Regions from separate parts of the Homo sapiens genome. Here region 1 is linked to region 2. A link means that fine-mapping ties the variant in region 2 to the plasma level of a protein whose gene starts in the linked region. Region 2 holds a variant in brackets. A gene starts in the other region. All regions are shown on their forward strands. Region 1 holds the start of ESAM (endothelial cell adhesion molecule). Region 2 has its middle 47 kb from the start of SURF6.

What was found. PIP is the posterior inclusion probability: the model's chance that the variant is causal. Protein levels are from antibody-based Olink assays in UK Biobank. Linkage for the fine-mapping came from a reference panel and not from the study's own genotypes, which makes the PIPs less certain.
Region 1: ESAM starts here. The variant in region 2 is fine-mapped to the plasma level of the ESAM protein (UK Biobank, PIP above 0.99).

Annotation. Positions count from the first base shown.
Region 1 is chr11:124,757,668-124,768,568 of GRCh38, forward strand. ESAM (endothelial cell adhesion molecule) reads right to left here and starts at 4,623. Exons shown (of 7, transcript NM_138961.3): 1 at 4,418-4,623; 2 at 682-860. The coding sequence starts at 4,487. It overlaps MSANTD2 (Myb/SANT DNA binding domain containing 2), which reads right to left. Exons shown (of 4, transcript NM_001308027.2): 4 at 8,831-10,361. The coding sequence ends at 9,509. ESAM-AS1 (ESAM antisense RNA 1) reads left to right here and starts at 1,467. Exons shown (of 2, transcript NR_120577.1): 1 at 1,467-1,746; 2 at 7,062-8,258. RefSeq lists enhancers at 561-720, 2,214-2,283, 4,178-4,681 and silencers at 4,412-4,821, 5,362-5,411, 8,526-8,820.
Region 2 is chr9:133,283,392-133,294,292 of GRCh38, forward strand. No RefSeq gene overlaps it. Among named protein-coding and RNA genes, the nearest start is that of SURF6, 47 kb to the right of the region's middle. The variant C/T (reference allele first, on the strand shown) is at 4,484.

The sequences.
Region 1 (10,901 bases), not on the chromosome of region 2:
GAATGTGAAAACAGAAATATGCTAACTTTTTTTTTTTTTTTTTTTTTTGAGACAGAGTCTTACTCCGTCGCCCAGGCTGAAGTGCAGTGGCTGGATTTTGGCTCACTGCAACCTCCACCTTGTGGATTCAAGCAATTCTCTTGCCTCAGCCTCCCAAGTAGCTGGGATTACAGGCGGGTGCCACCATGTCCGACTAATTTTTGTGTTTTTAGCAGAGACGGGGGTTTCACCATATTGGCCAGGCTGCTCTCGAACTCTTGGCCTCAAGTGATGTGCCCACCTCGGCCTCCCAAAGTGCTGGGATTACAGGTATGAGTCACTGAGTCAGGCCAGAAATATGCTAACTTTTATAAGTCGTGTGTGTTACTTCCCCTAAGCGTTTCCCAGTCCTCAACTTCCATTCTTCCCCTCCTCCTCTCCTCCCTCATAACCAAGTAAAATGCCTCTCACACTTTTACAGTATTTTGTGTGCTGGATTTTTAGGGAAAGCCGGCAAAAGATAATTGTTTGGGAAGTCTCCAATATCAGAACAAAAACTGAACTGGTGAAGACTTCTGCTTTTCCCTGAAACTCCTTCCCCGGCCCCCATTCCCTCTCCACCCCTCCCACCGCTACCAGCTCTTTGCTTACAACCCCCTCTGGGCGCAACTTGCCGCTGGCTGACAGGCGTTCTTCCCTCACCTGATCCTCCTTTTCTTTCTGTTTGAAGAACCACATCACAAAGGGCACCTCCCATGGCTGGGATGAAGACACCTCCCCGTGCAAGGTGTACCACGCTGGAAGCACCACTTCCCCTCCCTCCACCGCCTGCAACCGGTTGGCGGGCAAGTGCAGTTGCAGCTGGGCCCGCGAGGGGGGCGCTGGAGACAAGAGCGAGGCGTGAGTGCCCAGGACCGGCTCCCAGCTCCGCCCGCGGACCCTGCCCTACGCGGCTTCACCAGAGAGCGAGGAAAGTCGCTTTAACTGGAAAGAGGAACCTTGCGGGGTCCGGCCCCTGGAGGCCTCAAGGGGTGCCCAGGGACCACTGGCTCAGTGTCCTGCTTCCCATTTCATCACGACTTCTCTCCACCGCCAGCCTCTGCAGTTGTAGCGGGGATGGGGACACATTTATATGCATTTATTCGTATCCAGAGGCGCAGATTTCTGAGCATCAAAGAGAGGGGGCAGATTTCCAGCGAGGAGGGGAAGATATGAGAAGAAAGGGTGGACCGACTGTTTCTGTCGTACGCGCCACGTAGCCCACTTGCTTCCCTAGTTTTCCTGAGGGAGAGTAGGGATGCTGCTCCGGGCCGCCAGGGTCCCTCACTCCCGAGTTCTCAAAGGGCGGAGGGGTTTGGGAGGCCGTCTGGTTACCTATTAACCCTGCGGCTCCTTCTGAGCTTGCCAGGAGCTGGAGAGAGCAGAGCAGCCCAGCGCCCAAGCCTGACCCAGTGAATGCGATGCTCCCCGCCCTCCCGCGCAATCTCAGAGGCGGGCTTCCCTCGGAAAACGGAGGGTTGAAACCCAGAAAGCTCCTCGGAGCCCTTCTGGGGTTCGGGCGATCTGGGCAGAGAACTCTCGGGTGGCAAGGAATTAAGGGCAGCGCGAACGACGGTCTCTAGACAAGTATGAAGCCTCCCCTGAGTGTGTCCGGCGCTCAGGGGGTGGACCGGGGTGTTGGTTTCAAGGAGGGGGCCATCGTTTGCACCACGGCGTCCAGAAATACTCATCCTTTGCCCTTCGGGGAGGCAACAGAGCAGCCAACTGGTAAGCCCTTTGGGGAATAACCTTGGGCTTGCACACGGCCAGGCCTGAGGATGATCGCCGCTCCAGTCCCGGGCCCTACTCCCTCCAGGCCTCGGCCCTCTGCCTCGGAGCGGAAGACGCCACCTCCGCGTGGCGAGCAGGCGGCCAACGCCGCGGGAAGAGGCCGCAGCCAGGCCCCGCTCTCCACCCTCGCCCTAGGAGAGCCAGGCTGAAGGCCTCTAAGGGCTGGGAGCCGATCCGGCCAGGATGCAAGCCTCCCCCACCGCTTCCCGGCTGCGCCGTACAGAACCCCCACCTCTGTTACTTGGCCTTCGCAGCATCCCCCTTCCCATTTCCTGGAGGATCTCTGTGGTCTGGGCAGGAAATTTGTACCCAGTGATAAGGCAGAAGACAATGAAGGGGGGGCCACTAGACCGGAGGCTCTACGGGAGGAAACAATCCCCGCCTCAAGGAGCTGGACGCCCCCTGGGGACCCGGCCCGCTGGCCATTCCGCTGAGGCCGGGCACGCCTGGAGCCTGCAGGTGCTGCCGGCTCTCCCCCAGCCTTTCTACGACACACACCCGGCGGCCAGAAAGGGTTTCCGCCGGGAAACTGCCTGGGGCCCAGAAGGGGCGCGCCCTTCCTTCACCTTGTGGACCACCAGCGACCTCCCCAGGTCCCACATTTATAATTCCACTTTCCAGAAGGTAGAGGAGAGTTAAAAGAGATAGTAACGGACACACTGGGGTCTGGGCACATGCTCCTTGCCCTTCGCCCTGTCAGAAACTAGGAACAGAAGAGGGCCTGAGGCTTTTCTGCTCTCCCTCCTGGGTGTCTGCTGGCTCGGAAGTCACCAACTGGTCCGTTTTTTTCGGTCCCAGGGTCCACGGAGCCACTGGGAGAGAAAAGGAGTCTGGTTGGGTCTGATCGAAGGACACTGGGACAGCCCAAGAAAGGGACCCTTCCGGCCCACAGCCCTCTCCGAGGCCAGAGTGAGGGAGCCGGCAGGGGCCGAAGGAGAGCGAAATGGGCCCGCTCCCCGGGGCTATTTTTAGTCTCCCTCTTTCTCTGAGAAACTCCCCCCGCGGGCTTCTCACGCCCCAGGGGCAGCAGCACTGAGCCGCCGAGGAGCCTACTGAGCCGGAGAGCCTCCTCCAGAGCCCAGAAGAGCGGAGCCGGGCGCCTGCACGTTGCACCGGGGTCACCAGTGCCATTTAACCCTCGAGTGGCTGGCGGGAACTGGGCAACCCCCCAGGGGGACCGATTGGAACTTTTGAGTCCAGGTCTTCAGTCTGACAAACTGAGGCTCAAAGCTGGGGTAGGACAAAGGGTTGCAGATGAGCAGCAGGTGAAGCCTGGGACACTCAGGCAGTCAACTTGAACTGTCCTCCCTGGCTTCAGAGATTCCCCCAGCCCCCACCCCCCACAAGGAAGGGGGATAGAGTTGGGGTGGAATGCAGAAGGAACAGAGCTGAAGTTGAAGTTGGGAAAGGCGGGATGAGAAGTCTGAGGGATCCTGGAGCAGGCCCACCAAGCCCAGAGGGACAGAAGGCTACTTGTGGCCTTGGTGTGGCCTGGGGGGCTGTACTTGAGACTCATTTTGTCCAAGGACTATAATATTGCATGCCCCGACACCTGTGGGGCACAGAACATGCTAAAGGGGACACTGGTGATCCTCATCTCTGTCCCCATCATTGTAGAATTTCACTCTACAGCTTCCCAGGCCTTACTTGTCCTGACATCCTCCAACCTGAGAAATGAGTTAAAGTCAATATAGCTAAACCCACCCTTCACTCCCATTCGAGATCCTTGAAGGGAGATGGCAAGAAAGCTGAGGGACAGCAAGTGAAATAGTTTAAAAGGGCCTAGTCCTGCCGGGTCCTCTCCCAGATGGAGTTCTGAGCCACCCCAGCTTCAGCTGAAGCCAGCGCCCCTGGAGGCCTACAACACTTCCCAAACACTTGCTCCAAGGAGGTTCCCTTCCTCTCTGACCCTTGGCCACCCTCCTCCCAATTTCCCCTCTTCCCTTTGGCTCTGGAAACCAATAAGGGTGGTGGGCCTTGGGGGGGTGGGGTGGTCACAATTCTGTTTCTCTGTGCGTTTGAACCCCTCCCCCATTTCCTGTGTCCCAAATGACCTCACGGTCGTCCTTTTGGGGCACCTCCCTTGATTCCCAGGGCAGGAAGCAGGAGGGGGCAAGAGAGAGCATCTGCGCTGGGGAATTGACACGAAGTGCGTGTGTCAAGCCTGGGGACCAGGGGTATTTCCCCGGGGGATCTTCCTCATCAGCTTGTATGTGGGGTCGGGGATGAGAGGGGGCTAGAGTTAAGTCCTTAAGCTCTTTAGCCAGTGTCTCATCTAGCGGCTCAGCTCATCCGGCTCTGCTGGGTGGGGGGTGGGGAGTGGACAGGGTGAGGAATGGTTCCGATAACTCACCCCAGAGGTATCCAGGTCTTCCGAGAGATGCCCTTACCTCCCCCCGCCATCCGCCCCCACACCCAAACTGGGGGCTGTCCCCGACAAAGCGAGAAGTCAGCGCCAGCCAGTGATGCCCTGGAGTGGGATTAGGAGGTCAGGGGAGGAGGGCGAGTCGTGGGACCCAGTTCCGCAGCAGTGGCCAAAGTTCTCCCTCAGGGTCGAACTCACCCCATCCCGCATCCCAAGTCCCCTCCAGGTCCGGGTTTCACTCACCGAGGGCACTCAGCCCCAGGAACAAAAACCGCAGCAAGTTGGTCACCAGGGGCCCCGGGAGGGAAATCATGGCCCTCCCTGGCCGGGACGGAGTCAGGGGCGCCAGCCGCGGGACGCACGGACCTGCAGGTGCCGAGGCTGCGCGACGGCCGGAGCGTGCGCGGGAGCCGAGCCGCTGACACCCAGGGCGGCTCCAGCCCAAGTCTGCGCGCCTGTGTGCCGGTGGCGGGGTGGGGACCGACGGCGACAGCGGGGCGGGGCATTCGAGGGGGCGGAGAGGTCGCCGTCCTCCCGGGCGGGGCGCGCGGGGTCCGCCGCCCGGGGGCGCCCCCAGCGCGCGGACGGCGGGACCCTGCGGCCTCCTCCAGGTCTGGACGCAGGGAGGGGTGAGGTAAGCTCTGATGCCCCACGAGCCAGCCAGGTACGAGTAGAGGGGGAAGAGGAGGCTCCAGAACTATCCTGAGCCGTAACCTTCCCTTCCGCCGGGGTGGGATAGGAAGGGTGACCAGGAAGGGTGGGAAATTTGGGGACTATCCGAAGTCAGAACCACCCGTAACACCTGACATGTAAACGCTCCTGGGCTCTGGCTCCAAACTTGGGGGTGCCGCATCCCCGGCCCAATCAGGGCGGTCTTCCTGAAGGAGGAAGAGGGGAGCAGCGTTTTCCAGCTGCAGGGAGAGGCCGGAGCGCCGGCCGCGCGGGCTCCCTGGCACAGCGGGAATCTGTGGCTTTCCTGGAGGCGGGGGCTGCGCGGCCACCGGAGCGCGGCAGCGAGGGCGACGGCAGAGGTCGCGCGGGAGCCCAGGGCGCCCCGGGACGCGCCAGCGGGGAATCTTCACCCGCGGGCAGGAAAAAGCGCTCCGCGAGTTCAGCAGACCCCAGCCCAGGCTGGAGGATTACCCCGGCCTGTGCCTCATACTCCGAGCAGGGAAGGTTGGCACAAGGTAGTCCCGGGAGCTGAGCAGGAAACTGAGGCAACGTGCGTGCTGCTCCCAGCTTAGCCCCTGAAATGAGCGGCGTACGGGCCTGATGCTGACTGGGGAGGAGGGGCGGCTGCGGGAAGGAAGACAGGACAGTCCCTCCGTTTCTTCTTTATCCCCCAAATCTTCAGTGCCTCCCATCCCCGCAGCGAAAGGCTCAGGCGCGCTCTGATCCTTTAATTCCCGAGACTAGATCTTGGTCGCTGTGAATTGAATTTTACGCCCCCCTTCCCGCGCCATTCGGTCAAAAGGCACCTCTGCGCCCTCTGGCGGCCGCCGCTCCCTTACAGAAAGGCACGCACCTGTTCTTGCTTTTCTGTCCAACAGCCAAAAAAAAAAAAAAAAAAAAAAAAAAAAAATGCTTCAAACATCCCAGCACAGCTCAACCACCCAGCAAAGGTCAGTGAGGGAAGAAAGCATAACAACGAATTCCTGACGCTGCCCGCTCTGCGGGCAGAGCTGTCTGGGAAGAAAAGCAGCCAGGCCTGCGGGATTCCATTTACTGCACATAGTTTTGCTGTTTTAACAGAGTGTAGTCCCTGGGCCCACACTTCACACAAGATCTTTTTCTATACAGTGCCCCATATGCCCTCTCAGCTGCTTCTTTCTAGTGTGACCTGCCTGGCTCCTCTTCAAATACCTGCCATGCAGTGGCTTTGAGAAATGCCTATGCAAACACAAAACTGCTCATGCAAACCCTAGAATCTAGTACTTGGCAGCTCAGTGGAGGCACAGACAACAGGAAGAGATACCTGCCAGTCTCACACTCTTGTGTAGGGAGCTACAAACTTGGACTTGGCCAAGCAGATTGTGTGGTGGGGTTGGGGGCTGTTGGTTTGGTTTTCCTATTCCATCACACTCAAATTTTTCTTGGCTTTAGTCTGCATTGCAAACCATCTCTTGTAAACACCCCTCCTTTGTTTCCAGACAAGTCACCCCAAATAAGTAACTCCTTCCAAGAGAGGAAGTACAAAGTCTTTTGGTTCTAACCCAGAAACACCAAGTATCTAATCACACAGGCTGTGCTTATCCTGATCAAGTGCTACATAAGGTGTAGCCTCAACATTCATTCCCTGTAGCTAACTTTTCCTTCAGAATTCAGATCCCAAATGACTTGTGACATGGGAAGTAAAGCTGCAACCAATGATTTGTAGTCAGTGAATGTCTCCATGTGACACAGGGGCAGTCTCTTCAAGATTCTTTGACCGTAAAGAATTGTCCTCACTGTCTCCTGTCTCCTATTTCAGCTATTTCTTTCTTCTGACCCTGAGGGCAGTCAAGTCGTAGAAGTTAGCAGAGCAGCTCCATTACTTTGTGAAAGTTTTCACCAAGATGCATTTTAGGGTGGACTGCTCTCCACCCTGGTGTAAATCATGAATGCTGACACAGATGATCTATGTGCGACCTGGGAACTGCTTACATAAACGTGTGCAAGAGCTAGTTCATAGTTTCATATGTTAGAGACTTGCAGGTCATTAGTGTTTCTTCCAATCACATCTCATGTTAGATTCCGAAAGTAATTCCTAATATTTACCTTTACATTTGAATATACTTTCTCTGTCCCCCTTGAATCAGTTATAAGGCTTCATTAAGGTCTAAATATTCCATTTCTTATTTTCGGCAGTGCTCATAGTTATCTGACATCCTGCTATCTTCTTTTCTAGACTGTTCTGGCCAAAGAGACTGGAGATCCAGTATCAGCAAGCTACTTTCTTGGTAAACCTCCATTTCCCAATGCTCATCTTTGTCCTCTACCCCCACCCATCCCAAGGCAAATGATGAAAACATCTATTGGATCCAGCCTTTGCTATCTTCTCCATGCTGCTCATAGTGGGTCTAGCAATGTCCCATTCTCGGTAATGTTTGGTAGGTCTAAAACATCCTCACGAAATGTTCCCCAAATGTTCTGCTCCAGCTGAGCAACTAATAACAATGGGAAGATGCAGAAAAAAAATGCATGGAGCATAATGTTAGTTTTGGGACTCGTCAGTGGCAACGTTTTAGAGATGCCATGAAGAATTCCTGGTAATAATCCTTCTTCCTACAGCATTTAGCAATGAATACTATGGGATTATGGCTAAAAGATGGTCAAGACTGCCTCAGCCATTAGGATCAGAATTCTAAGTTCCAAAGAAGAGCAAACTCAAGAGGATTTCCTCAGGCCTCTGACTATAGATGCTGCCTGGGGAGAACAGGTGCTACACTCAAAACATTCTCATTTTATTTATATCCTCCCTGAACTAGTACCCAACTCCATAACCCCAGACTCAAATAACAGAAATAAAAGCCATCTCACTGATTATAAGCTCTCTAGTTATTACAAAAATAAATAAGCATCAATCAACCAACAGGCATCAGAATGAGAAAATCACTGATTTGAGACATTCAGGCTGCAGGAAAAGAACACTTTTTGTTAATATGTAACTATATCTTCAGTAGTACAGAAAAATGAGAAGAACGAGAGTTCTTACCTGGATTTGCGGCTCACTTAAAGTAGAGCACCTGAGATGCTGGGAAATCATAAAGATAAATAACCAATCTAACAAATTCCTGCCATGAGACCAAAGTGATCCTTGACTACTCTATTAGTAAGCGACTCTGAGCCAAGAGTACGAACCTGTAAGTGGAGTGGTGGTTGGCCCATTAGAAATCTCTGAAAGATCTAAACATGACAGTTACCTTCCTACTGGACTCATACTTCTCAATTCCCTCTCCTAAAAGAATACTTTTGGGCTGGCCCCAGTGGCTCACACCTGTAATCTCGGCACTTTGGGAAGCCAAGGTGGGAGGATTGCTTGAGGACAAGAGTTTGAGACCAGCTCGGTGGAAACATAGCACCATCCATGTCTCTACCAAAAAAAGAAAAAAAAAAGTGAAAAACATTGCTGGCGTGGTGGCACTTGAGCCTGTAGTTTCAGCTGCTCAGGAAGCTTTGAGGCAGGAGGATTACTTGAGCCCAGGAGTTCGAGACTGCAGTGAGCTATGATTGTACTACTGCACTCCAGCCTGGGTGACAGAGCAAGACCCTGTCTTAAAAAAAAAAAAAAAAAAAAAATTTCTACTGGATCTTCCTTCCTTTTGAGAGATAGCAAGATTACATCAGTTTTCCAGTTGTACTCCTTGAGAGCTGCCCCTGAGTACTGAGTGTAAAAGATGAGGAATGAGTCTCTTACAAATTGATGTACTTAGGGTCAAAAGGATTATCCTAGTCATTTTTAGTCATTTTTCAAAGAATTACAAAATGAGATGTTCAGTGACCTTTGGTACTCTGACAGTAAATAATGACATTGGTCAGTGAGGTATAGAGAATGAAAGGATGTGAAGATACCCTGCTCTGTTTGTTCTCTTCATTCTTAGCAGTCAAGTCAGAGCGCAGCCCCCACTGCCAGTGCAGCCACACTCTGCTACAAAAAGCTCAACTAGTACGCCAAGGGGCCAGGAATTACTTTAATTTTTTTTTTTTAAAAAAAGGTTTAAATGGCAACACAACTGTAAAGTTGGTACATCACAGAAACAAAGGTCTTTGCAAGCAATACTGATTGGAAATAGCAAAACACTTGGCTGGTGAAAAAAATGAAAATCTAAATTATATACAATAGTAGCTAAGGGTGATATTGAAAAAGTCTTTTTAACTGTGAATCAAGATTTAACTTGCCATTATCTATTGCTTATTTATTCAGGGTTGTAAATATTACTTATATAGAGACATAGAGATGTGTAAAAATGAAACATTGTGAAAAAAATACAATTTTTCAATTTCATATGAAACTCAAAGTATAAGTTTTGTCCAATATGGAATGTACCTACATTTGTTTATATTAGGGCTCTAAAATCCATTTAAAAATTGTTTTTCTGTTTTTAAAAAAGAAATAGCTGACCCACCATGCAAGTTCGCTATATATCTTGCTTGCTCAAAATGAGCATTTTCAGGTGAGGTCTGTTTTTTCTGGCCCAAGTCTACTATGATTCCTTAGAAGTCGTACTGGCCCAATTGAAGAAAGGGTTTCCATGAAGAGTCTGACGGCGGCATCTGGATGAGGGGTGGTCCGGGTAATGGGAAGTGAGTAGAGAAGAAGGAGCTAAGAGCCCAAATCCTTATGAAGGATGACATTCAGTTGTTAAATTTTAAGGGGTATCCAATGGCTTTTTCCAGGCACTCAACTAAAGAGCCTGCGGAAAGAAAATCCCTCTCTACTTCTACAAATTTGATGTAGATGGATTTGGGGGAAACTCCGGGATCCACAATACAGTTCTGAGACAAAAACCCGTTAATACCAACCCAATCTTTGCTGAAGGTTTTGGTATTCGCTTGGAAATGTAAAAATAAGCACTGCTGTAGAGTCCTGACCTCAGCAATCCCGAGGTAGCAATAGATAATTCGGGTGGGTTCTATTTCCACCTGTAATGAGGCTTGTGCTGAAAGGGTTTCCAGGTCAACCCGGCCCTCTTTTCCTGGGTCCAGGGAACTTTGCTCCATGTGTGGTGAGAGGGGCCTCTCAATACATTCTTCATAGCCAATGGCATAAAGGCCTGGGCTTTTAGGAATACCCCCAGGCAATAAATATTGAACAACATTCCCACCAGTTGGTTTGGAGTGGGCAATGGGTATCCAGTCAATTTCCATGTGCAGCTCCAAGCACCTAGCTTCGCTAATAGTGATCTCTAAAAATTTGTAGTAAACATTTTTCCAGTTCATTTTCTGCACTCGGGTCATAATGATCCGTCCTTCAGGCTTCTCAGAGTTGAAGTACTCCCGAAGTCGCTTGCCAAGGGGCACCTGGGAGCTGATCTCAGCATAATGGTAACGGATATCCTCTTTCCAACGGGTGTTATAACCAATTCCAAAAATGGCCAGTTTATTAGAAAGATGGAGCCTTGAAAAGTCTGTCCAGCTCTGAAAAAGTTCCCATTTCAACTGTACCGATTCCAAAATCTGTACAATATTCTGCATGATGTCTCTCTTCCTGGAAAGACAAATAAAAGTCAAATTCCCTAAGTATCTAGAACAGCGGTGTCAGATAGAACTTTCTGTGATGATGGAAATGTTCTGTATCTGCTGCCCAATATGGTGGCCACTAGAACATGAAATGTGGCTGAGGTATTACATTTTTAATTATATTTAGTTTAAAATTACATTTAAATAGCCACATGTGACTAGCAGCTACTGTACTGGGCAGTGTAAGTCTAGACAATCAACCTATTAAAATGAAAAGAAACACACCCCTAGCAAGTTTCTAAGAATTAATGATAAACTGCTTTCCATGACTTCTACAGCCTCACTGTATAATCAGAATCAATACCTTAGACTCTAGGATTTCAGAAATCTATGGATCATAATATTTTAAAGTGGCTATTATGTCTATGATGGCCTTCAGACCTACCTACCTACCAAAATAAGGTGAAAAATGCTGTATTTAGAAAAGTATCTGGCGTCACTTAAAATAATTAACAGCTTAATTTCTAACCTGGAAATTCAGAAAGTCCAATAATGGGCTTTGTGTGTG
Region 2 (10,901 bases):
GCGGGTTGTGGGGGAAAGAAAGAGCGATCAGACGGTTACTGTGTCTATGTAGAAAGAAGTAGACATAAGAGACTCCATTTTGTTCTGTACTAAGAGATATTCTTCTGCCTTGAGATGCTGTTAATCTGTAACCCTAGCCCCAACCCTGTGCTCACAGAGACATGTGCTGTGTTGACTCAAGGTTTAATGGATTTAGGGCTGTGCAGGATGTGCTTTGTTAAAAAAGTGCTTGAAGGCAGCGTGCTTGGTAAAAGTCATCACCATTCTCTAATCTCGAGTACCCAGAGACACAATACATTGCAGAAGGCCAGGCCGCAGGGACCTCTGCCTAGGAAAGCCAGGTATTGTCCAAGGTTTCTCCCCATGTGACAGCCTGAGATACGGCCTCGAGGGAAGGGAAAGACCTGATCGTCCCCCAGCCCGACACCCATAAAGGGTCTGTGCTGAGGAGGATTAGTAAAAGAGGAAGGCCTCTTTGCAGTTGAGATAAGAGGAAGGCATCTGTCTCCTGCTCGTCCCTGGGAATGGAATGTCTTGGTGTAAAACCCGATCATACGCTCTAAATACTGAGATAGCAGAAAACCTCCCTATGGCTGGAGGTGAGACATGCTGGCGGCAATACTGCTCCTTAATGCACTCAGATGTTTGTGTAAAGTCAAGCATAAATCTGGCCTACGTGCACATCCAGGCACAGCACCTTTCCTTAAACCTATTTACGACACAGAGATCTTTGCTCATATGTTTTCCTGCTGACCCTCTCCCCACCATTACTCTATAGTCCTGCCACATCACCCTGTCCGAGATGGTAGAGATAGTGACCAATAAATACTGAGGAAACTCAGAGACCAGTGCCAGTGCGGGTCTTCCATATGCTGAGCACCAATCCCCTGGGCCCACTTTTCTTTCTCTATACTTTGACTCTGTGTCTTATTTCTTTTCTCAGTCTCTCATCCCACCTGACGAGAAACACCCACAGGTTGTGGAGCAGCTGGCCACCCCTTCAGCAGGTGAAGCTCTGACTGGTGAGTGATGGCGGTGGGTGAAGCTCTGATTGGTGAGTGATGGCAGCGGGGTGAAGCTCTGATTGTTGAGTGATGGCAGCGGGTGAAGCTCTGACTGGTGAGTGATAGCAGTGGGTGAAGCTCTGACTGGTAAGTGATGATGGCGGGTAAAGCTCTGATTGGTGAGCGACGATGGCAGGTAAAGCTCTGATTGGTGAGCGATGTGGTGGGTGAAGCTCTGATAGGTGAATCATGACAGTGGTTAAAGCTCTGACTGGTGAGTGACAGCAGCAGGTAAAGCTCTGGTGGATGATGGCGGGTGAAGCTCTGACTGGTGAGTGATGGTGGTGGGTGAAGCTGGTCTTAGTGTCCCTGCAGGTTGTTTCAGCAGCCATGAGATAAAACTGGCCTCCTCCAACTGGCTAAACCTTATGAAGGATTGGCCTGCTACCAATCAGAGGCTGAAGTGGAGACTTGGCCCATGATCATTCAGAGGCTGAAGTGGAAACATCTGTCATGTTATCACAAGAGTGAAGATGTGGCTTGTATGCTGCCTAGAACTTGGTAGGCAAGTGGTTGAATCTCAGTCTCTCGGGCTTACCGCCCCTCAGTGGGGCCAGGCACGGTGGCTCAGCCCATAATCCAAGCACTCTGGGAGGCTGAGGCGGGCGGATCACGAGGTCAGGAGATCGAGGCCATCCTGGCTAACATGGTGAAGCCCCGTCTCTCCTAAAAATACAAAAAATTAGCCAGGCCTGGTGGCGGGCGCCTGTAGTCCCAGCTACTGGGGAGGCAGAGGCAGGAGAATGGCGTGAGCCTGGGAGGCGGAGCTTGCAGTGAGCCGAGATCACGCCACTGCACTCCAGCCTGGGCGACAGAGTCAGAATCCGTCTCAAAAAAAAAATAAAAGAAAGAAAGAAAGGAAAAAAGAAAAAGAAAGGCTCAGGGGGTAGAGGAGGAGGCCAGATAGGAGAGTTGTGTGGAGCCCAGATAAGGATCATGTTTATATTGACACCTCTGGGCAGTGAGCCTGGCACCTGTAAATGCCTGTAAATCGCCAGGGAGCAGAGGACAGTGCTGGCTGGGAGCCTGTGTCTCAGCCCTGCCCCGTCGAATGATGTGGCCTGTGGCCAGGAATATCACCTCAGTCTTTCAATTTCCTCATCTGCAAAATGGGGATAGCAATGCTGGCCATTCCTTCTCCCAGATCAGTGATGTGGTCCGAAAGTCCTAAACAGTGTCACTAAGTAAGGTGAAGTCTAATAAGTCATAAATCCCAGCCTGCCATAGGGACCTAAGAGCTATTCCCCTTCTCCTTCCCTGTGGAATCTGGGACACAGCAAGGAGCAGGACCAGGTAGCAGCAGGCTTCATGCTCCTTCCCCAGCAGCCTTCAGAGAGGACACCAGGGTTACCCAGGGATGGTTACCTGGTCCCCAGATCACCTTGTTGTGGCAAGTACCAGAATTGGGCACTGGCCAGTGATGGGCTCATAATAGCTCCAGCCAAATGCCCCTCTTTCCTTTGTCCTTACAGGGAAGGTGGGTTACACTTATCCTCCTGGAGCCATAATTCCTTTTTTTTTTTTGGAGACAGATTCTCACTCTGTCACCCAGACTGGAGTGAAGTGGTGCAATCTTGGCTCACTGCAACCTCTGCCTCCCAGGTTCAAGCAATTCTCCTGCCTCAGCCTCTGTAGTAGCTGGGATTACAGGTGTGCACCACCACACCCAGCTAATTTTTTGTATTTTTAGTAGAGACGGGGTTTCACCATGTTGGCCAGGCTGGTCTCAAATGCCTGACCTCAGGTGATCCACCCACCTTGGCCTCCCAAAGTGCTGGGATTACAGGCGTGAGCCACCGCACCCAGCCCGGAGCCATAATTCCGTTAGGCCTTACCCTGCAGTGCCTGGGCACCTGCCCTAGTGCCCTATGTGATTACGAGCATAGGTAACTACTTCTTCTTTCTTCTTCTTCTTCTTTTCTTTTTTTTTGAGACAGGGTCTCAACCTGTCACCCAAGATGGAGTGCAGTGGCATGATCTTGGCTCACTGCAGTCTCAATTGCCTGGGTTCAAGTGATCCTCCCATATCAGCCTCTGCAGTAGCTGGGACCACAGGCGTGCACCACCATGCCTGGATGACTTTTACATTCTTTTGTAGGGATGGGGTTTCACCATGTTGCCCAGGCTGCTCTTGAACTCCTGGGCTCAAGCAGTCTTCCCACCTCAGCTTCCCAAAGTGCTGGGATTACAGGGGTGGGCGACTAGCCAAGCCTAGGTTAACTTCTTATACTGCAAAGTTACAGAGTGTGGCAAGAAAAAAATAAAGCTCTCCATCGAGTTCAGGGATGAGTCATTTCAGGAAATACCATTAGTTTTCAAGACAATGCAATTTATATAATATTGTAATTCCAAGCTCATCAATGTAGTTCAGATATTCTCACAGTCATGGCAGACTAAATCTAACTTAAAAGGAAGCACATGCTATAGAGGTCTCACAAGGACCTCACTAGGACCAGTTCTGATACTGTCCCAGTCTATTGTGTTGCCTTCACAGAATGCTTGAGACTTAGTAATTTATAAACAAAAGATGTTTGGTTCACAGTTCTGCAAGCTGTACGAGAAGCATGGCACCCCCATCTGCAGGGCTTCTGGTTAGGCCTCAGACTGCTTCCACTCAAGGCGGAAGGCAAAAGGGAGCTAGTAAGGAGTGTAATTCCCAGTTTTAAAAGTAAAGATTTGAAAGCATTAGTTTGGAGACTTGTAGCCCACAAAAATTTAGGATTTTGTCCAAACTGCCGAAAAACTCAAGAACAGCGAACAACAGGTATACTATAGCTTTTCTTTTGAAGCATAATTTTTCTCTCTTCAGTCTCCATTTTTATTAAAAACAAATCATGATAGAATGATTTGTTTACAAAATAAACTTTAGTCTTATTATACTTGGCCTGATTATTTGCACAAAGCACACCAAGAATAACTATTTTTCACATAGGCCTTTAAAATTGGCTTTGATGGAACTCTGTTCTGTAAGGAATCTCAAATAAGACTTTTTTAAAGCTAAGCCCAGCCATGGGTTTGTACACTCAAATACCTATGAGTTGGGTAAATTTCTCTCCTCCTGAGGTCCCAAGAAAACTTGGGTCTCCTGAGACTGTTAGAAAGTGACATTCTTTACTTACCACAGGTCAGGAACTTTGAACAGGGACTGTGTAGACAAGGTATAAGGCCAGATTTCCCAAGGGGCTTTTATTAGCTCAATAACTCAACTTTGATTCTCCTTTTTTTTTTTTCTGAGACAGAGTTTCACTCTTGTTCCCCAGGCTAGAGTGCAATGGCACGATCTCAGCTCACTGTGACCTCTATCTCCCGGGTTCAAGTGATTCTCCTGCCTCAGCCTCCAGAGTTGCTGGGATTACAGGCGCCTGTCACCATGCCCAGCTAATTTTTGGAATTTTTTTTCTTTTTAGTAGAGATGGGGT[C/T]TCACCATGTTAGCCAGGCTGGCCTCAAACTCCTGACCTCAGGTGATCCGCCTGCCTCAGCCTCCCAAAGTGCTGGGATTACAGGCATGAGCCACCTCGCCCAGCCAACTTTGATTCTTTAAAAAAAGCATGCCATTCTAGTCAAAGCCTTGATAAAATAACCAGTTTCTCCCATTGTGTCCTGTTACAAAAGAAAACAGATTATCATTGTACTTATGCAAATAACTATACTGCCATATGTTGAGAATATTCACAAATAGTTTCCAAATTCTGGAAAAATCAGGTAGGGAGAAACAAATATACTCCAAATTTTTTCACAGGAGTATATTTTATTCAACTGTTAAAAGCTGTAAGTAGCTTAAAAGAAAAGTTTTCTTGGCTCTGGAAAACAAAAAGGATCAGCAATGTTTTAAGCAAAAAAGTTAATACAAAAGATTACTGGGCTAGGCTCAATGGCTCACACCTGTAATCCCAGTACTTTGGGAGGCCAAAGTGGGTGGATCACCTTAGGCCAGGAGTTCGAGACCAGCCTGGCCAACATGGTGAAACCCCATCTCTACTAAAAATACAAACATTAGATGGGCATGGTGGTGAGTACCTGTAATCCCAGCTACTTGGGAGGCCGAGGCAGGAGAATCACTTCAACCCGAGAGGCAGAGGTTGCAGTGAGCCGAGATGATGTCACAACAGTCCAGCCTGGGAGACAAGAGCGAAACTCCATTTCAAAAGAAAAAAAAAAAAAGATTACTTCAGTTTTCTATTAGTTCAATCAATTCCATTAACTCCTGTTCTGTTTGATATTTATGAACATTTCAGCTCCCCATGAGAGTCCTGGAAGTTATTTCCTCTATTCTAATGTCACATTCTCCAAAGTTATTGGAAACCTGAATTCAAGAGCACCTGTCAAAGTTCTAGAGCTGATTATAAACCACCTTTTGAAGAGCATCAAACAAGACAACAATTGTCTGTGGATGACAACAATTGTCTGTGGATGACAACAAATCTTAGGACGGCCATTATTAAAGCCACAGTTGACTAGGAATTTGGTTACTTCTGTGGCATACAACAATTTTACATACAAATTATAACTATTATATTAACAGCATACATTCAATCATATCAGAATTATAGGAGTTTCTCATAATTTTGGAACACATACTAATAACATATTTATACAAATACAGCCCAAAGAAAGCCAAACAACATTTTATATTTGACAATGCTTCCTGTATGATTTTTATACCACGTAAGCCAGATGTCATTTTTGGACATTAGAGGACCTAATATCTAAAAGATTAGGTTAGAAAGAGACATAATTATAATCAAATTATAATTTATAATTTGATTTTGGAAAGTTTGTCAAATATCAAAGATTTATTTTGTGGATATCACAAAATAGAATCCCAGGTCACCATAAGTCATTCATTTGACCAAAATGATAACTCCAAAATTTTAAAAAGAAAAACCCTTTACTCTGATAGAGGAGACATAGCTTTCCAAACAAGAAGACCCAATGAAGATAGCATGAGGCCAACTGAATCGTATCTTCTCTCTCCTCCCCTTTTTCCCTGTAGTTTACCCAAAGGGGCAAACAAAACCCTTTCATTTTCTTTTACTATAAAAAATCTTTTACATAATCTTTTATGTAAAAAATCTTTTACATAAAAATCTTTTTCAAAAGAGAAAACCAAATTTAATGTTTGTATTAGTGCATTTTTAATGCTAAGGCTGGTTTTACAATAAAAATTTACAAATGTATTCAGTCTTAATTAGTCTGACCATAAGGTAAGATTTTCATAAACTTTTTTGAACACTTTATAATTTTTCATTAAACAGTCGATCAGTTTTCTAAGAAAACCCTGTTATTTGGACACCTGGGCTCAGATTCTGGCCCTGTATTCGTGTGCTTTTATTTTAATGTTCAACCTACAGAAAAAAAAATTAAATAATCCCCTTCCAATATTAGCCAACTTGCTCATACCCACAGAACTTTTTTTTACAAGACCAACCCTTCATAAGCCCTTTTCACTTTGTTTAAACCTCCAGTTTTGTCCCATTACTCTTTTAGGTTAAGATAATCTTTAAACCCTCTGAACTAGACAAAATTATATTCCTTTTTTGTTTTGTTTTGTTTTTGATATGGAGTCTTGCTCTGTCACCAGGCTGGAGTGCAGTGGTGCAATCTTGGCTCACTGCAACTTCCATATCCCAGATTCAAGCAATTCTCCTGCCTTAGCCTCCTGAGTAGCTGGGACTACAGGCATGTGCCATCGCATCCAGCTAATTTTTGTATTTTTAGTAGAGACAGGGTTTCACCATTTGGCCAGGATGGTCTCGATCTCTTGACCTTGTGATCCACCTGCCTCAGCCTCCCAAAGTGCTGGGATTACAAGCGTGAGCCACCGCGTCTGGCAACATTCCCTTTAATAAAAGCCATATTCCCATGCCTTCCTATAATCTTTTACTTTCCTTACACACCTTACATGTAGAACTGTTTCTCCAGTGGTCTCAATTACATGTTACAATGTTACCTCTTAGCAGCTTTTATTTTTGGTGAAAACCTGATAAGTGATTTTAATTATGTACTAGGTGTGGAGTCTAGGACATCAGACAGAAGTGAAGATAAGGCCTAACTCTTTCCAAAGTAGGCAAATTAAACAATTTTCAAAAGTCAAAGAAACAGCTTACAACCTTAAAACATTTAGTAAATCTGATATCTGACGTTAATTTAGACCAAATGTCTACATTTTGAAGACATTTTTGTTTTTATCAATAATTTCTAAAACTGTCTTTATTTCCAAAAGATTATTAAAGTCACGTGTACAAAAGGCATTAAAGTTTCTCTTTTTCTGACAAAATATTTGATTTCGGCATCTATTTTTAAGCCAATTAAACAGAGTTCTTTTTGTGTAAATATTACACACACAACACATATGAATACAGACAGATAGAAGATTCAGCACTTGTAAGATTTTTTATTTACCAGTTTCTTAATTGGATTACTGGCTTCAGGGTGGAGGAACAGGGCCAGGAAACCATGCAGTTTCTGGGGCCTAATAAGGAGGCACAGCTGGAAAGGAGAGACAGATCCCCCAAATTAGGGTGCCATTCTATATGTATCCTGGATCCCTAAAAAGGAAAGAAATACTACAGGAGAAGACAGTGCAGTGCTTCCACCACACATGTCATCGCAAGGAAAACCAAAGCCAATCAGCCCATTTTGTAACCAGCCAATCCCCCATGGGAGTCTCATCTCTCAGTGGGGGTTGGGGATGTTTCCGTATCTTCCAGGTGGCCAAGAGCATGTTTCTCTGATCCAAGCTTGCAAAGAGCTAAGTATGTCTTCATAACTGACATTAGCCAATTCTTAAAGTATATTTTTTACCTAGTTATTATATATCAAGCCCTCCTATAATTCAAAGTAATTTTTGATACCCCCAAGACTCAAAACCGTTAGATAGCACAATGCAAAACAGAACAGACTTAGATTTTGAGGGGGACCTATCTGCTTTTAATTCCTGGGGTTTCATGAGGAAAACAGGGTTTTTTCCCAAAATGGGGTCTATAGCACCTCCTCTGTTTTTCCCAAGGAATCTCAGGCTACCAGAAGTTATCTTAGGGCCTCTCATGTGTGCATTAATAGTGGTAAGACAAAATGGAGAAAAATAATTCAGTCGACTAAAAGAAAAAAAAAACCTTTTTCCAGCAAAACAAGATCCATGAAAAGAAAAGCATAAAGACCTTTTAAATATACCTACAGCTTGCTTATGCACTTTTAATTAAGTTGACTTTTAACCATAGTGGTCTTTAAAAAAATCCTTTCACATCTCTGATTACCTGACTTTATCCATGCAGTCAATATTTCTGGCTTTTGAACTTTACCAAAAGTAACCAACCTCCCAGGTGCTTCAAAGGCATGGTAAGCAGTTTCTTTTTTACTAGATTTAGAATCTCCCTAAGGTAGTTCAGAGAAAGAAAAATTCAAGAGAAGAAATCAGAAGCTATCCATAAAAACCTCAAATGGCAAAGTTACACACATAACAAACCAGAAAGGAATCATTCCAGAAGCCAAGAATTGAACCCAGGCCACCACTGTCAAAAGATAAACCCTTAGTTACTGAACTATACAGCATTGAGCAGTTTCTATTGCTTTTCCCAAAAGGAGCCTAGAGAGGCCAATTTTGAGTTTGAGAAGGCTTTTAACTGCTCAAGATAATTCTTAGGGCTGTGACATGAACCTCAAAATTCCTGTCCTCTGGATGGCAGAAACCAAGATAAAGTATCCCCACAAGGTTAAGCTCTTAAGGACACAAAACAAGACCGATCTTACCGAGTATTGTTTTCAGGGACCCGTAGCATAGTTTGTAATTGACCAGTCTGCTGGGTTGGCTTGAAAAATGGGCTTATAGGGATCCTAAACCCACATTGTATCCTGTGATACTCCTTTCTCCATTACAGAATATAGAAAGACAAACTTTTAGTACAAAGTACACCAGATTTGCTACAGCCTAAGACCAGTCTCACAAATCCATTTTTCTATTAATCAAACTCTTGCAGAGGAGACAAATATAGTGACATTTACCATTTATGCAGACAGAGAAAGAGAGACCAGAAACTTGGCTGGTAAGAATTTCTTATCCTTTTTTGGCATACCAGATTTATGGGTTCCCTTTCTCTGCAGCTTCCAGAAGAATGGAGCACCTTCTGATGACCCTGCTCGCTGTGCCATAGCTGTGGGATTCAAGCCACTTTACAAAAGAAAATCACCCTTTTCTGTTTTATGGAACCATAGGCAAAAGATAATCAATTTGCAAGATGTTGCCCAATGGGCTGCATTGGGGAACTGAATGAACATTTTCCATCCCAGCAAAATACACAAAACAAAACAGACACTAGTCACCCCATTCAGCACCCAATATCAACCTAGCAAAGCTCAAACTTTCTCCAGACGGTCCCTGTTGTCTTTGATCCATTCCAGCTGGGGAGGGATGACCTCCAAATGATAATTCACAGTGGGGTCTCTGGGCAAGGCAAAGAGCCAATAGTCACCCCGAGAAAGGCCTATCGAGCTTTCTTCAGGGCTCACCAAATGTGACCAGACAAATAAGGAGGATTCTCCAAGTTAGGCCTGCTGGACTTCCATCAGCAATTTCTTCTGAGATCCCCTCCACATATACAAACACACACAAAGACACGACAGACAGAAGGCCTTCCAAATCAGATCCCCAACAAAGAACTCAAGAGTATCCCTCCCAAACTATCTTCCTATTCTCTGTCTGAGAAATCTCCCCAAAATCTTCTGGACTGAGAAGAAGTCTCCCCAACCAAGATTCTTCCTACTAGTTAGGGAGAGCCAACAGAGACCCCCTAGGAGCCAAACTGAGACAGACACCCCGCAATGGGGCTACAGACAAACAGACACCCCACCAGGGGGCTACAGAACCAGTCGGGAGAAGGAAGGGGTCATTGGCGGTACCTAGAATGCTCATCAACCCAGACCCCCACAATGGGATGCAGACAGACACCCCACCATGGAGCTACAGACAGACACCCTGTGATAGTGCTACAGTTAAGGGATATCGCCCCAGGACTATTTCTCCATTGCAATTAAATCCATGCACATTGGGTTGGCAGCACCCCGCCAGTAGAGAGTACCAAAGTCAGCCCCTAGTCCAAGAGAACTAGGCAGATGCTTGGGCTAGCCTCTGGATCCATCGCTAGAGAGGGGCTACCAAACCACGGGCAGGTAGCTGCAAGGGCAATCCTGATGAGCCTCGAAATTTGTAACCACCCAGTGGGTTCACTTTGCCCACTGCCTAGACAGAGTGGATTTATCAAGACAGGGGAATTGTAATAGAGAAAGAGTAATTTACACAGAGCTGGCTGTGTGGGAGACTGGAGTTTTGTTATTGATCAAATTAGTCTCCTGGAGCATTTGAGGATCAGAGTTTTTAAGGACAACTTGGTGAGTCAGGGGAAGCCAGTGAGCCAGGAGTGCTGATTGGTTAGGCAAGAGATAAAATCATGGGACGATGAAGCTGTCCTCTTGAACTGACTGTTCCTGGGTGGGCGCCACAAGATCAGATGAAGCAATTTTATCGATCTGGGTGGTACCAACTGATCCATAAGGTACAGGGTCTGCAAAATATCTCAAGCACTGATCTTAAGAACAATTTAGGGAGGGTCAGAATCTTGTAGCCTCCAACTACACGACTCCTAAACCAGAATTTCTAATCTTGTGGCTAATTTGTTAGTCCTACAAACACAGTCTAGTCCCCAAACAAGAAAGAAGTTTCTTTTGGGAAAGGGCTATTATTGTCTTTGTTTTAAACTGTAAACTATAAACTAATTTCCTCCCAAAGTTAGTTCAACCTATGCCCAAGAAGGAACAAGGACAACTTAAAGATTGAAACCAAAA